4 separate regions of the Homo sapiens genome follow, and regions 1, 2 and 3 are each reported to be linked to region 4. The links are microRNA targets in miRTarBase. Many come from high-throughput screens and were not tested one by one. Region 4 holds a microRNA gene; each other region holds the end of a gene's coding sequence.

What was found. Region 4 holds the annotated microRNA hsa-miR-6861-3p (UGGACCUCUCCUCCCCAG, at 1,275-1,292, shown strand). A microRNA usually pairs through its seed, bases 2 to 8, with sites in the 3' UTR of a target mRNA and lowers its output. Matches are read on the target gene's strand: a 7mer-m8 pairs with bases 2 to 8, a 7mer-A1 pairs with bases 2 to 7 and ends in A, and an 8mer does both.
Region 1: miRTarBase lists PPP1R11 as a target of hsa-miR-6861-3p. Seed matches in the 3' UTR shown: 7mer-m8 at 2,776-2,782.
Region 2: the mRNA of MAZ is a reported target of hsa-miR-6861-3p. The part of its 3' UTR that is shown has no 7-base or 8-base seed match.
Region 3: miRTarBase lists TM4SF18 as a target of hsa-miR-6861-3p. Seed matches in the 3' UTR shown: 7mer-A1 at 3,148-3,154.

What each region holds. Positions count from the first base shown.
Region 1 is chr6:30,068,661-30,072,652 of GRCh38, reverse strand. PPP1R11 (protein phosphatase 1 regulatory inhibitor subunit 11) reads right to left here. Exons shown (of 3, transcript NM_021959.3): 2 at 3,955-3,992; 3 at 2,320-3,549. The coding sequence ends at 3,347. It overlaps RNF39 (ring finger protein 39), which reads left to right. Exons shown (of 4, transcript NM_025236.4): 4 at 962-2,383. The coding sequence ends at 1,542. Among named protein-coding and RNA genes, the nearest start is that of PPP1R11, 3.5 kb to the right of the region's middle.
Region 2 is chr16:29,808,888-29,812,879 of GRCh38, reverse strand. MAZ (MYC associated zinc finger protein) reads right to left here. Exons shown (of 5, transcript NM_002383.4): 5 at 1,716-2,803. The coding sequence ends at 2,649. PRRT2 (proline rich transmembrane protein 2) reads right to left here and starts at 687. Exons shown (of 4, transcript NM_145239.3): 1 at 557-687. It overlaps MVP-DT (MVP divergent transcript), which reads left to right. Exons shown (of 4, transcript NR_186424.1): 3 at 2,707-2,845; 4 at 3,747-3,992. RefSeq lists silencers at 685-834, 1,235-1,314.
Region 3 is chr3:149,318,372-149,322,363 of GRCh38, reverse strand. It overlaps TM4SF18 (transmembrane 4 L six family member 18), which reads left to right. Exons shown (of 6, transcript NM_138786.4): 5 at 1-108; 6 at 872-3,866. The coding sequence ends at 886. All of the region lies in intron 1 of TM4SF18-AS1 (TM4SF18 antisense RNA 1), which reads right to left. Among named protein-coding and RNA genes, the nearest start is that of TM4SF18, 13 kb to the left of the region's middle.
Region 4 is chr12:112,160,565-112,164,556 of GRCh38, reverse strand. MIR6861 (microRNA 6861) reads left to right here and starts at 1,236; the gene lies at 1,236-1,299. It overlaps HECTD4 (HECT domain E3 ubiquitin protein ligase 4), which reads left to right. Exons shown (of 76, transcript NM_001388303.1): 73 at 282-448; 74 at 820-1,015; 75 at 1,293-1,515; 76 at 2,034-3,992. The coding sequence ends at 2,170.

The DNA of each region.
Region 1 (3,992 bases), not on the chromosome of region 4:
GCACAGTTCAGCCTATAACAATGTCTATCCTCGATTCCTCATATTCCAGCCATTTTCCCTCTTCCTTTTTCATACATTCAAACAACAGATCCCTGAAGGTTAGGTGCCTCTCAAAAATCTCTGCTTCCACCACCTCTCGTCACTCCTCCCTGGAAGGGGACCCCAGCATCTCCTTGACCCTTCTTTCCTCACTCACTCCCAAGAAGAAGGGTGCCTCTACCCTTCTTTAAACTGCCTAGAGAAGGTGGTCCACCATCTTGGTCATCCACCATCTTGCCCAGTCCAGATTGCTTCTGACACCCCTAATCCAGAAATTTTTCTTCAAAGCACCCCATACATATAAGGCCAATGGTTCTTTTTCTGGTCTCTGGCTATCACCACCTGCTCTCCTCCTCTGCCCCACAACCCCTACAGAAATAGGACTGTCCACCCCACCCCCCAATTCCTGTGGGTGGGTGGGCTGGTTTCTCAGGATACCTTGGATTCCTCCCTGTGCCCCTCCCATTACTTGAGGTTCCAGTATCAGTACGACTTTCTCTTTAGATGAACCTTCCCCATTTTGCTGACCCAGCTCCCATGCCCCACCCCAGATGATGCAGATTGAGGTATCAGTCCTTACTCCTCCCTCGAAGTCAGATCAGCCTCACTCTTCCTCCCCCAACCCCACAAACGAGACAACCTCTCATTTGATCTTCCTGCTGTGCTCCCTGCACTGGGCCAGTATGATCCTTCCCCAGGTCCAATTCTACAGAAGTGGTGCATCAGTACAAGGTCTGATATTGCCCAGGTCTGCTCTTCATATGCCTTCCTTCTTTTTGGTCCTGCAGTCGCCTTTTGAGCTGTTGTGTGGTCACTAGCTCTCAGTCTTTTACGTGATCTTCGTTGACTATTCTCCACCCTACCCCGCCTGTGATTTAGAAAACTCTCTCATGAGGTCCTCTCCCTGCCTCCCCGTCTCCAGCCGACCTGACCCTGGACCCTGGGACCGCACACCGCCGCCTGCTCATCTCCGCCGACCGCCGCAGCGTACAACTGGCCCCACCAGGGACGCCCGCGCCCCCTGACGGCCCCAAGCGCTTCGATCAGCTCCCAGCTGTGCTGGGTGCGCAGGGCTTCGGGGCCGGCCGCCACTGCTGGGAGGTGGAGACTGCGGACGCCGCCTCCTGCAGAGACTCTTCTGGGGAGGATGCGGACGACGAGGAGAGCCACTATGCAGTGGGCGCGGCCGGGGAATCAGTGCAACGCAAGGGCTGCGTAAGGCTGTGCCCTGCGGGGGCCGTGTGGGCCGTGGAGGGCCGCGGCGGCCGCCTGTGGGCCCTCACGGCACCCGAACCCACCCTGCTGGGCGGTGTTGAGCCCCCGCCGCGGCGCATTCGCGTGGACCTGGACTGGGAGCGGGGCCGCGTGGCCTTCTACGACGGCCGCTCACTCGACCTGCTTTACGCCTTCCAGGCGCCTGGCCCCCTGGGGGAGCGCATCTTCCCGCTGTTCTGCACCTGCGACCCTCGTGCTCCGCTCCGCATTGTACCAGCGGAAAGCTGAGTCTCGTCTCCAACTAGAAGTTTGGCCCGGCCACTGGCCCTGCAGCTGCTTTTTGGGGGTGGAATTCCCCACTCATTTCTGGGAACACATTCACACGCCCATTGCAGGAGTATTAATAGCAACCCACATTTTCGCCCCAAAATAATGAGACCTCACCTGGTCTCCACGTTTCCACGTCCCTGCTCAAAACCAAATCCATTCCTGCCTTCTGGCTCTCAGAATCTTCTCTCCCCTACAGCTACTACAGTACTTCCTGACTTCTCCCATTCAAACCATTCTAGGCCTGCAATGGGGAACAGGCCCTCCCCATCAGTATTGGTAAAGTGACCATGATTCCTACATAGAGGCTCTGCTGGTCAAATACTTGACTCCCACTCTTGCCACTCCTAGCTCCAGAAGGGCTCAGGGCCTTCCCCACAGATCTAAGGACTGGGCTACCCTGCCTGTCCACTGAGGTTTCTCCTAAAACAAGAGGCTTGACTCTGGTCTGGGCCCTGTGGCCCTCTGGGAAGCTTTGTACCTCTTTTGCAGGATCTGGGGGTGGGGAGGGACAAGCTAGTTCCCCAACCTCCTATGACTGCTTTCTATGCTCACAGCCTTTTTTCCATAAGAACCTTCTTGAAACTTCTCCCCGCACATACTCACGGAAAGGAACCAATGGTGCTATTTCCCCTCTCTCCTCCTCAACCTGGGAATACTTCAGACATCTCCAAACTCATCCTTGTGTATAGTCTCACACCCTTCCCCATAAGTATAAATGGGCCCATATTTAACACATTTTGTGATTTTGGGTTATTTATTTTGTGCATCTGTGGCAATAAATGAGATCTCAGTGGTGGTATGGATTTGACTGATCTCTGTAACTGTGTATGGCAAAAGGACCGGAAAATGAAAACCGGATCCCAGTAAGGGGTAGAGAGGGGCCAAGAGAACTGAACATCTGGGCTGCCGGAGAAATCAAAGTCTAGGAAGTAAGAGGTAAGAGTGTACTACAGGGGACATACCCCAATCTCTTTGCTCCCTCCCTCTTCCTTCCTCTCCCAGAGACCCAGGTCCCTGGGACTATATTGGATCTGTCTCTGAAGCTGAAAAACAAAAGGCAGAGGAGACAGTCGGCTCTAAGTGACCAATCTCAAGCCAGCTTTGTCAGAAATCCTAAATAACAGGAGAAGGGTGGGAAGAAAGGATATGATTATTTCTTATTCCATTTTCCATAAGAGGTGAGAATGACAAGGACCTCTTTTCTAACTCCTCTTGAGGGTGTGAGAAGGGTTAGCAGGAGGAGAAGGGCTGGGAGCTCTGAGGTCTCCTGTAAGACCTCATATCTCACAGGCAAGGACTAAGAATTAGGATTAAATATTTTAGTGGGATAGCTCTAAACCAGGATTAGCAAGCAAAGTTAGGGCGCAAATTCCTGGAATCTGACTGGGACCCTGGCAGTGAAAGCTGGGACTGTTGAAAACCCAATTTAAGTGTTCGCTACTCATGTTGAGAGTGCAGGGCCAAGATAACTAGATCCCAGGACAGGCAGTTTGGCAGTGAGAACAAAAGGAAGACACTGGGACCAAGGTGCCTAGATCCCTCGAGAGAGAAGGGTGGGTATTGGGAGGAAAAATGAGGACTGGGGAAACCCAGGAGGCTGGGTTCTGGAATAGCAGCAAGTCAGAATTTCAGGATCTCTGTTCGTCCTCCTCTTCCTCTTCCCTCTATCAGGCAGAAGAGAGGGAAGGAGGGGGCTGGAGAAGTAGCCACATGGATACATTTAGGGCCAGACAGACACAGGAATGCTGGAGGAGAGAGGGATTTAGTGCTGCATTGGCCCTGGAGGGGGCTGGGAAGGGTCAGGAGGCTGGGGAGGGGTGGTGGGGGTCGGTCCTAGGGTTGCACGACGCCGTCCTTTGCGGTGGCCACGTACACAGTGTGTATGACCACAGCCCTCTTCTTCCTCCTCATCACTTTCCGTGGAGCTCTCGCCAAAGGCCCGAGGTTTCTCATAAATACAGCAGCCTAGATTTAGAGGGAGGAGCCCAGTTAAAGAGGAGGAAGGGTAAGATATATAGTCAGTTCCATTCCCACTCAAACTCAGTGAAAATTCCTATTTTCTCCTACCTTCCAGGATCCAGCTTCCCCAGGCCCACCCTCTGGGACTCAGGCCCCACCCCTCTTGTCCTCTTAGAGAGCCACGAATTCAAAGCCCCACTTCTCCCACCTCTGACACTTCTTGCTGTCAGACCTAGGCAATTCCAGTTCTAGCCCTTCCCTACCTCTTTCCCTGATACCACAGCACCACCAAAAAAGTGACAGAACTATGAACATCTGGGGGCTTCTGGAAAGCCAGTGGATATGAGTAGATACAAGATATGCTGAAGGGAGCCAGAACTCCAGGGCTACTGCGGGCCAACAATTACTCACATTTGGATGAGCGGCGGCCCATGTGTTCATTGTCCACA
Region 2 (3,992 bases), not on the chromosome of region 4:
GAGAGGAAGAAAAGTTGGGGTTTCCTTTGCCTTAGGGTGGGACATCCCTGCGGGAGGAGTGCTCTACTCAAAGTCTTCTGCTTGGAGAGCCCTGGGGAAGATTAACCCTTTTGTAAACAGGACCTTCTCCAGGGTCTCTCCCTGGGTCCATCCAACAAGATCCAGACTCTCAGATCCCAGCACCCCAAAATCAACGAGCTGTGCAAATAGCACTCCGACAGGCCGACTGGGCAGAGGACCCGACATTCGCATTCCACTCCCTCTGCATCCTCCCCTCCTCCCTGGGCTCCCAGGCGGTGCGGGTTTTCTTGCTGCGCGTTTAGGGCGAGGACGCTCCCGCCCCTTTCTGGGGGACCTGGTTATCTCCTTCGATCCCCTGTCAGCCCCTCTCCCGGGGCTTCCCTCGCCTTCGGTGGGCTGGCGCCTCCTCCCGATGGTTCAGCCCGCCCAGCACCACCACCAGCCCTCCAGACACCCGCATTCCCGTGCAGTCCGCCCGGCGTCAGCCGTCGGTCGGTCCACTCCTACCCGCAGCCTCAGTCTGCCCGGGTCTCACCTCGACGCCGGCCTCCGGACAGCTCCCGCTGCCGCTGCTGGCTTTTGCAGCAGCCGCAGCCCGGGAGGGAGCAAGTCAGCTAGGGAGGGAGGGAGGCGGCGGGTCTCCCTCTTCTCCTCTCCCGTGTGCTCATCCCCTCCTCTCCGGTCCCCTCCCCTACGCTCCGCCGCCGTCGCCGCCCCCGCCCCTCGCGAGCCTCCGGCCCCTCCCGCCAGCCCAAGGGAGCCACGCGTTACCCAGGCAACCGGCCCGGGGACCACTCGCGCCCCCTCCCTGCCCCTTCTCACGCGCGCCTCCAGGAGAGACGCCTCCTTCTTAAGTCCCCGGCCCCTCCCGCCAACGGTCACCGGGATTCCTGGAAGAGACGGGGATTTGGGGGAAACGGAGAGGGTTCTGCGAGGAGACGGGACCAGTGAGACAGGCAGGACCGGGTGGAGGCGTCTCTACGAGCAGGAGGGCAAGGAAGATGGGGCAAGACGCGGGGAGGCTGCAGAGGAGGAGCAGGGTGGGGTTTGGAGAGAATGGAGCCTGCAGAAAGGAGCGGCAGAAACTGGCGCTGGAAGGCTCAAAAAAGGGGCCCTGGAAAGGACGGAGCGGGGACAGGAAAGGGAATTCCAAGGGGCAGGAGGAGCTGGGCAGAGGAGCCCGTGTAAACACAGAGTGGCCCATGCCCAGGATGAGGGACAGGTGCAGCTTTCATTCTCTACCTCGCTGCTCCCAGTCCTAGGGCTCGGACTCCCCAGCCTTTCCGCAGCCGCATCCACCCACCATGGCCTCAGGGCCGTGACGCGCGTGGGGAGGGATGCGGCTGGGGGCTGAGCAGCGGCCATGAGTGTGGACGGGGGAGGGCGGCATTCCCGTCTGGCAGCTCTGTTTGGGTTTCTGACGGGGCCTCTTCAAACCTCCAGGGGCTATTCTGGGCCTGTCCGAGTTGGGAATTCCCCAGAGACCTGGAACTTGCTCTCCACAGCCACAGCCTTGGCCCCGCCCTGTATCTGTGCTGCCGCCAGTAAGGCTGCCCCTGGGGAGGGCGGAGCCAGAACCTCACAGCCTCACAGGGCAGAGCAAGGCTGGATTGACGGACACCAGGCCGAGAAGAAACCCTTGGGGTTGGCGGCAGTTCTTAGTGAGGGCAATTCATTCAATCCAGAGCCAGAAACAGGATTTTATTTAAAATTTATTGTAATGGGGTCCGCGCAAAAGGAAGGGGTGGAGGGTGGGGTACATGCAGGGGACACAGGAACACGATGACATGGCCAGGGCCACAACTTCTTCTGTCGTGGGGAAGAGGGATGAAAAGACAAGACCAGGGCTGGAGCTGGGGTGGAAGAGGGGAGGGGGACACTGGCTGCATTCCCCCGCCCCCAGGAAGCACCTCTAGGCCCTGGACCCCTCGCTCACCCTGGCCCCTAAGACTCCATCTCTTCTCTGCCTCTGGCCCTCCTGGCTCTTCCTCCTGCTCCCCTTGACTTTTTCCCCTGACAGATTCTCAAGTAGGACGATGTTCAGGGCCTGACCCCAACCCCCCATACCACCTTATGAAGGTACAACCTTTGCCGGCCCTGCTTCTGCCCCTCCTCAAACCTCACCGCTTTCCCTCTTTGGGACAGCTCTGATCCCCCTCCTTCCTCTCCTCCCTCCCCCTGGAAAAAAAAAAAAAAGGAAAAGAAAGCACCAACTCCCCGGGGAGGGGCTGCAGACAGCAGGGGGAGAGGACTGGAAGGAGAGAAGAGGACCGTCGAGGGAAGAGGCTCACAAGTCCCTGGGAAGACAGGGCATGGGCTTACAGAGAGGAGAGGGGGTACGGGCAGTGGCTGCTCGTGTCCTCTGCCACCCCTGCCCACTGTCCAGGGGACTTCAACACAACCGAGGGGACAGGTTTGTGTGGGGTCAGGTCTGACAGAAGAGGAGCAGGAGAAACAAATCGTTAAAACCTAGCGAATTCCCCTAAGAAAACATTTCTTCCTCCTTTCCTTCTGGAGGCTCCTTGGTTGGTAGGGAAATAGGAGTTGGTGGGAAAAGAGGGGGGAGAGGAGCTTGTACCAAGGGACTCTACTCCATTCTCCCCTCTCCCCCGCAACCAACTTGGAGCTCACCAGGGTTGGGAGGGAAGTGGCTGAGAGCTCACAGGCACCCCCTCCGCCCCCGAGAGGGAGCCCACAGCTGTGGGAGGGGCTGCTACTGCTGCCGCTGCTGCCGCTGCCGCCGCTGCCGCTGCCGCCGCCATTGGACAAACCTCACCAGTACCTGCACAGGAGAAACACCACGGATCACAGCGCGATCTGAATGGCAAGAGCCTTGCCCTCACCCCACACCTTCCCAGCCTGCTTCCCCTGGGACACAGCCGTTGCTCACTTCCTATCTGGACCCCAGAGGCCTCAGCCTGCATCCTCACCCAGACAGAGCAGTTCTCAAGGATCCTCCCTGTGCCCAGAAGTCTCCCTAGCCTGAGTGGTACATGGGCATCCCTCGCCTTCCTGAGATCCCCTATTGGGCCCTTTGAGCCCCGTTGTCCCCCACACCCCCCATCCCGCCCCCCAGCCATGCCCCACGCCTTGCCTGGTGGGTGCGGGGGTCCCCCTCAGCAGGTGGGCTGTGGCTGGGGGGCGTCTCCCGGGACAGGGGGGGCGGCCCCCCCCAGATGGGTCTGCATGTGGCCGGCCAGCTGGGCAGGGGTCTTGCAGTGCACGCTGCACAGCTTGCACAGGATGCGGTCAGCCCGCGGGGCCTGGAGCCCGTGGTCCTTCACCGCGTGGATGCGCAGGTATGCTGCCGTGGTGAAGCCTATTGGGGGGTGGATTGGGATGGGGCGGGGGTCAGCCAGGCGGAGACCCCAGAGACGGGGCTGATCTCCTAGGCGGGGGATGCCCTCCTCAGATGGCCCTGTCCTCCTCCCACGGTATCCTTGGTAGCCTGGGGCCAACTGCTCTGTTGGGGCTGGTAGACACAGCCCCTCCCTGAGCCTGGGGCCTGGCTTGTGTGGTGCCCGCTTCTCAGCCTTGGTACCTACAGAACTCATTCTCCATGGCCGGGAGACCTCTCCCAGGATGACGAGACACTGACTCCTAGCCACTTGCAGGGTTGACCCTCAGCAGAGACGGCTGTGTCCCCTTCCCTCCAGTGCCCCGCGGTCTCAACCCAGTTAACCGGTGAGTCTGACTGAAGGCAGCTTTCTCTGCTACCCGTGCAGGGTGCGTGCTGGTAAAGCCCGGCCCGTGTACTCCACCTGCCCCAGGAGCTGGAGACAAGACCTTGTGGCTGCGCAGCGGAAACCTTGCCTTGTGACCCCTGGAACTGGCTTTCTTGACTACTCCTTCCCCAGAGCAGCCAAGTTCCACTCCCGCTTTCCCCACACATTACCAGGAGGTTCAACCTCTCTGGCAGATCATCTCTTCCAACCAGGACTTCTTAGAGTCTAATGATGTTCATTCAGGTG
Region 3 (3,992 bases), not on the chromosome of region 4:
TTTTCCATTCTCATAACCCTCAGTGGGCTTCAAGTGATCATCTGCCTCATCAGAGTAGTCATGCAACTATCCAAGATACTGTGTGGAAGCTATTCAGTGATCTTCCAGGTAACAGATTCTCATGGGCACCTGTAGCTCATCCATATTTCCCCCACTTCCCAGGATTCAATGAGGCTTTTTGAAAAGACTCTAGAATTCCATCACTTTCCCCCCATTTCTATTGCCCTCATCTTTATTCAAGCTCTAATATCTCAATTTTTTCTGATATCCCAATGTGTCTTGGCTTATCTATAAGGGTTGAATCAACTCAGTAATTGTAAAATCTGCATTTCTTGTTGTATGGTAAGGCTTCATAAGTGTTTTGAATGAGCAAAGTTTTAGTGTTCTACATAGAGATAACTCAAAGCATGATGAAATTTTACCATTTATCAAGAATTTCCCTGTTCATAAGTTAAGCAAAGGCTCAGAACCTTATCTCATTGAAATAACTTCTCTTCTGAATGCTGCTACATTCAACTAATGAACCTTTATCTCGAGTGCATAGGAGTGCTTTTGAAGAAGAAGGGAAATATGTATTTATCCCATTGAAACTACTTCTACTTCGTCTGCTAAAATACTAATGTTAATTTAGTTATGGTTGAAACTGCTATCAAGAAGTCCAGAGTGAAGAAAAATTATGAATTTAGATGGCTTGTATTTTGTTTAACAACAGAATGTGTAATACCTTTCCTAGCAATTTCTAAGAGATGTTTTTTCTGTTCTATCATATTTTGAATATGAAATATAAGTTTAAGTTGCTATCTGGATTACGGATTACTAATCAAGCCAAGTTTATAACTTTAATCACTTTGTTTTTCCTTTTTTCCTATAGCCTGGAATCATTTGAATAAGGACAAAATGTTTTCCATTATCAAGACATGGCCATCTATCTAAATATTATATCAACTGTGTAGACTTGAGGGCAATATTGAAATGATGGTGCTTTCTGCATTTGGTGTTTATTTGTAAAAAATTTGCAGTCCTCACTGCACATGCAAGTATACCACCCTTCCATTTAGTATGTTTTTTAAGTAATATGCATCAGAAACTTCAGAAATACTTCTGCCCTTTGATCAAACAAATCCATTTCCAAGAATCTGTACTAGGGAAGTAAATAAGAATATGAGAGAAACCTTTATGCAAATATGTATATTGCAACATTATTTAATATTCTGGAAAATTGGAAACACCCCAAAATTCTAAACTCAGAGGAAGGATTAAGTAAAGAGTGGTACATACTGTAAATGTTTTCTGATATTAAAAAAAAAATTAAATAAAAAATAAAGAGTACTACATGGTTGTAAAATTACAGTCATTACAAATGATGTTTTTAAAATTATGAATAATGCTACATCAAAAAGCAGGTTACAAATTCATGTTTACTATATAACTATTTAAAGCAAATGAAACACTAATAGTCAAAGTTTAGGATGAAAACTAAATCTAAAAGGAAATATAACAAAATGCCAATTATGCTTGGTTTGGGGCATTGATGACCCTTCTTCCCACTTTTCTATATTTTCCAAGATTTCTTTATTGAATATGTTTTACTATAAATATTTTCTAAACTCATATTTTCACTATTAAAATTTTTTTATTTTTCCAAACTTTAAGGCATATGCTCTTTCCACATTCCTCAACATTATTTGCAAACATCATGAAATGACACTTCCATCAACATTCAATGAGGAAAGTAGTGATATAGATGAGCCAAAAAGAGTTTTATATAAACTTATACAATCTAAACTCTTGCTCTTCCTTTCTGACTCCTGAGGGTGAGTGTGATGGACTAGAAGAGGTAGCCTTAAAATAAGTGAGCAGCTAGGGAACATGCTCAATGGGCAAGAGAAAATGACCACTGACCAGTCAATACCTGTGTCAGGGGGAGTTACCAGTACCTATATTTATTTTTAAAGTAATTAAAAAGTAGAACACTTACAAATTTTCCACCTATACATGCCATGTCTTCCTCGGGGACAGTAGCCACATCTTATATATTTCCCACCATGCATAGGACCCAGCACACAGTGAAGCCAGTAGGCACTCAGTGTTGAATGCTCATACCAGGTTTTCTGCTTCCTGTAGTTACCCTGCTGAGCACTGCTTCCATCACAGGTGCACTGGGCCTCAACACTTCTGCCATTTCCCCATTTGTCTCCTCCATGGACACTGTCAACAATGGTCTGTCAACACCTGCTCTGTGCCAAAGCCAGGGAGTAGGCTGGGGGGATACGGAAGAGAATATCTTTCTCCTTGATGCCTGCTGTGCCAACAGCCCCCTTTAAGCCTTGTTCACAGCCTTTGCTGAAACAAGCATCTTGAAAGCAAGCCATGTTATACACCGCATGACCTTCATGCTCTGGGCCCAGCTGACTGAACTGGGGCAGGCCCCAGAGTCATGGGCAGCCTATTGTCTTGCTAATGGCCTCTGACTTAGCCTGGAGTAAAACACTGTCCAAACAAGACTGGTGGTTATTCAAGCATAAGAATTTGAACTAGGAAGCCAAGAATGAAGCAACCGGACCATTACCATCAAAAAATGATTAAAGGATGAAGAAGGAAGCCAACATTCAGAGAGTATCTGGTTCATGTTAATAATGGTATCATATTAAAAGGAAGATACATGAACTTCTACTCCAAAAGCTCCTAAAACTGCCTTTGCCCACAATGAACAGTGTACCCTAGGCCTGGTTTCTGTTCTTGGATTCCTAGATAGTCTTTCTTCTTTGTCACTGTGCTGATCATTTCAGTAAACCCCCGACTAAATCAGTGCAGCTCTGTTTATTGCAACTAAAACGATCCAAATGAAGTCTCCCTTTTCTAGATGTTGGGTTGGAGGGATGCTAAGACAAAGATGCTTAGGCTCCAGAGTTTTACAGAGCTTCATTCAATAACACTCTACTTTCCAAAGAACTTAAATATGAGGTCTGAAGGACTTGGACCAAGAGGCAAACCCAAGCTACAGACACCATGTTGTACTCAGAGTGACCTCTCCCCTCTGACAGCCCAGGATTTCTCTATCAAGTCCATAAGCTAGTCATATCTAGGACCATCTTGTTAAAAATTCTCTCAAAGTCTCCTCAGCCCTCTTGTAAACAGACTTCTGGAAGGTCCACTTCATCAGTTTGTTATATACTTTCAGACTGTCTATCTCTTGTTTAGATTCAGCATGGCACCGTACGTTGAATGGACTGTTAATAGATGTTTGCTGAATGACTCCACCACAGCATTGGACACATCAGGGGTACAGCCAAATGCAGCATGATACCTCTATCAGGAAAATTAAATTTTAACACAGCCACCAAATATTCTATATTTGAAGAGTATATGCTAATCATGCAATTTTAAGTAAAAAAAAGCTGAATACAAAAAAAGCTGAATATGTGTTTTATATCCTCGTGAATTCAAAGTAAAAAGGAAAAAAAACTCAAAAACCAAATATATGTATGCAGTTTGAGCCCAAATTTTTAATTAAGTAACCATATAATTACATGTAGACATGTATAAACCTTGAGATATGTAAAGACCAGAAAAATATTTAAAAGTTAATAGTTACATCATCTGTGGTCACAACACCCTGAAAATGCCTAATATTGGAAACTTAAGCAGGATTGATCCAGGTTATTACTTGGATGGGAGACCAGATGCTATAGGCTGAAAAAAGAAAGCATAAGTACGCACAAGTTAATACTTAATAATTATCTCCTAATGATAGGACTATAAGTTCTATCTCTTTTCTTTACATTGTTCAGTATTTTCAAATTTCCCTTTGAAAATGTGTTATGTACTTGAATTATTAGAAAAAATAAATGTCATTTAAAAAGCAATGGTCCTCTAATTCTTTCTGTAAAATTCATTTAAGGAGTTAAAATAGAAAATATATATAGGTATGTATATGACTGGCCTTCTCTTACCCTTTCCAGAAATAATCTTTCCACTTTTTAATTCTGAGA
Region 4 (3,992 bases):
GTTTCCCATCATAGTCGGTCCATGCCAGTGAGAGAGGATCGCTGCCTCCAAACAGACGTGGGAAGAGGCCTGGAATGTGGGTCTCTTTAGCCTGGCCTGGGTCACACGCCCGGCCCTGAACTGATGGCAGGTTCTGATTGGCGAAAGCTGTGTCACATGCTCATCTACACGGCCGAGGGTAGACCCCACCAGCTGCGCTTGGGGTTTACCCAGCCACCTGGGGATCAGGGTTCCACCTCCCATGGCCTCATAATGAGCCTCGCTCTGCCTCCACCCTCCAGATCAATGATGAGACCGAGCTGGAGGCCCTGTGCGCTGAGATCGCCTCCCAGCACCTGGCCACGGAGAGCCCTGACAGCCCCAACAAGCCCTGCTGCAGGTTCACCTACCTGACCATGACGGGCGAGGAGGTGGAGCTGTGCAGCCGGGGCCGGCACATCCTTGTGGCGTGAGTGTGTGCGCGTGTCAGGGGCTGGCAGGGGCTGGCCCGGCCAGCCAGCCAGGGTATGACAGCAGCATCTGTTCCTGGGCAATGACACGAGGACCTAGGTCAGGTGACAGGTGGATTTCACCAGGAGAGGGAGATGAGGCAGGATGGTGGGTGCCAAGAAAGAGGGTCCTCAGCAGAAGGGGTTTACTAAGAAAACAGCAGCTCTGAGGCGGCGGCACCAGAGGCAGGAAAGGACTGGGATGACCAGGGCGGCTGGGCCCCAGGCCTCTCCCAAGAGAGGATCCGGGACCTCCAGCTGAGTGGGTGTGGCCCCCAGACCCAGCCTCTTCGGCGGTGTTCTCCCTCACCTGTGCTCCTCACCCGGGCAGGTGGGAGAACAAGGACATCTACGCGGCAGCCATCCGGAGCCTGCGGCTGCGGGAGCTGCAGAATGTGGAGTGCGTGACGGCCGTGCGGGCCGGCCTGGGCTCCATCATCCCCCTGCAGCTGCTGACCATGCTCAGCCCACTGGAGATGGAGCTGCGCACCTGCGGCCTCCCCTACATCAACCTCGAGTTCCTCAAGGTAGACATCCCAGGGCCAGGCTGGGCGGGGAGGTGGTGAGCCCCAGGCGTGCCTCCCTGTCACCCTCAACTCCAGCAGCAGGCATCGGCAGTGGCCTGTCTCAGCTCTGTCCTTGCCACAGACCTGTATCATTGTCATCATTGTCATCTCCCTGTGCTCACAGCCCACACGTTGCACCCTGCCCCAGGATTGGGCCTGGCCTGCAGACCCCAGGGCTGGGGAGGCACTGGGTAGGTGGGGCTCCAGGGCTCCTGACACCTGGACCTCTCCTCCCCAGGCCCACACCATGTACCAAGTGGGGCTGATGGAGACGGACCAGCACATCGAGTTCTTCTGGGGGGCCCTGGAGATGTTCACCCAGGAGGAGCTGTGCAAGTTCATCAAGTTTGCCTGCAACCAGGAGCGCATCCCGTTCACCTGCCCCTGCAAAGATGGGGGTCCCGACACTGCCCATGTGCCCCCGTACCCCATGAAGATCGCCCCCCCAGATGGCACAGCAGGTACCGCCCTCCCCTGGCCATGTCCCAAGTAGGGACACACTAGCCTTTCTCTGTTTGGAACTGGGGCTGCCAGGCCCCATGTGAAGGGAGAACAATGAACAGGAGCCCCACGTGCCAAAACTCAGACATCATTGAGGATTAGGGCCCGGCAGGAACCAGCCATACAGGCCTGCTGTTAGATACTTTCTCATATCTTAAAAGAAGCTGAAAATCCAGAATGCTTCAAATCTTCTAACTTTTAAATGCAGAAAAATGGTTAAAAAAAAAAAAAAAGAAACAATTTGCTGGGCAGACAAACCCATCAGCAGTTTGGCACATGCGCTGTCCAGCAGCTCTCTCCCCTTTTCCCTCCAAGAACATCTCGCAGGTTCCCAGGCCCTCATCCCCCTCCTGCTGGGCCCCAGGATTGGCTTGGGGCTACCCAAGGAGGCAAACCTGGAAGCAGAGGCCAGCCCAGCTTCCCTGGGAGCCTCACAGATGTGGGCCCAACCCTCTGATGCTGGCTCGGTTTCTTGTAGGTTCCCCAGACTCTCGCTACATCCGCGTGGAGACCTGCATGTTCATGATCAAGCTTCCCCAGTACTCCTCTCTGGAAATCATGCTGGAGAAACTTCGTTGTGCCATTCACTACCGTGAAGACCCCCTCAGTGGCTGATGGGAGGGAGCCCCAGAATTAGGCTGTCACTGAGGCACCCACTCTGCTGGCTTGGGAAGCCACCACTGCGGCCCGTCCCTCCAGGGCCCTGCGTGAGGAGTTGGCAACATTTTGCTTTTCCAAACTTTCGTCCACATTCCAGGGCCTCCTGGAAGACTTAACCTTTTGTCTTTGTACGTTTCGTGATGGGTTGGTTCTTTTGCTGCCTGTTTGTGGTCTATTTGTAGGATAGTTTAGTTCCCAGACAGTTTGTGTCTAATTTGATCTTCTTGGACATTGTCCCTCATGGCCACCAGATTCTAATGCCATAAGGCCCCAGCTGGTTCCCCATCACAGAACCACCCAGCAGGAAGCCGGGGGTACAATGACCTCGGCCACACAGAGCGCTCGTGCTTTCAGCAGAGCGCCTCCACAGACAAGCCTGTGGCCAGCCCTGCCCTCCAGCCTCGAGCTGGAGTTGCTCCAGAGGCAGCCCCAGCAGGCCTCCCTCCACATAGAGGTGGCTGGGCCAATTGCCCAAACACGTGAGACACACAGGGAGCTTTATGTGTTCATCTTCCTGCTTTAGAACTTGCTCCCGGTCTTGGTTTTTCTGAGGAAAAGCCCACAGTGGTTCCCCTGCCCCTCCCATACCTCCCTATCTGCCGTCTGTCTCTTTGGGCCCTGGTCTGACAGTTTTCATCTGAGGCCTCCTCGGGAGCAGGAGACTTAAGGGTTCATCCCGACCTTAGTTCACAGAGCCTAGCTGGGTGCATCCCAGCCGCAGGGGGTGAGAAGACACCCAGAGATGGGGGACAATGCTCAGGTGGGGGCCTCCTCCGAGACTCTGGTTGAGAGGAAAGCACATGATTCAAGCCTACCCCACAAAAAAGGAGCACAAAATGCTCAGAAATGGCCCTTCCTCCCTGCAGTGACGTAGGACAAGGGAAAGGGCCACACCCATTTTCAAAAGAGTGGACTGAGGTGCTCTGCTCAATTTGGGGTCTGCTTTAGTGACCCAGACACTCAAGTCCAGATGGAGACTCCAGGGGGGTCCTTCTGCCCCTCTGGCCAGCCCCACCCAGCACTCCCCATCACCCCATGTAAGTGTGTATGCCAGGGCTGAGCTGCCTCCAGGCTCACCCACTGCATCTTTGCCCCAAATAGGTCTTTGTCCAGTGGTACTTTGTTCATGAGCAGCACAGGCCATCTTGTTGGACACTGTCACTTTGGGCCTTGCCAGGTCTCACAGAATCACATCGCTGTATTTATTGTATAATATTGTGAATATTGGAAGTTTTGAGTGAGTGCTGTCTAGAAGGTTTTGGAGTGTGGATGCTGGTCCAAGAAAGAAGATGTGCCCTGGCCTGCTGGAAAGATTGTGAATTCTAGAGATAGAGCCGTTAGCATCCATCTCCTCCCTGTAACTCTTAGGAAATGCATCAAGGACCATTATAGAAAGGATCCCCTGACCTAAGGATGAAATCGACCTAGGGTTAATCATGACAGCTGCATCAGTTGTATTGGATGCAAGTCAACTCTGGAGGTGAGTGCCCGCAAGCAGTTCCCCTGCTTTGAAAGAAGATGGTCAGCCCGCTGCCTCCCCAGCGGCCACAGCTCCTTTGAGTGTGGGGGGTCACAGCCAGGATGTATTCCTGACAATAAGGATCCTTTTATTTTCATTTCTGCATAATGAAAGAGCCTTTCGATTTATTAGAAGTGGTTTTTCCTCCCTACATCTTTAAATTCTTGGTTCTCTTTAGTCCTCATCCCTTGAATGGACTTGTCAGCTACCTCCCCAGGAGGAGTTCAGAAGCTTCTGTTGGCCATCACTTGAGTAGAT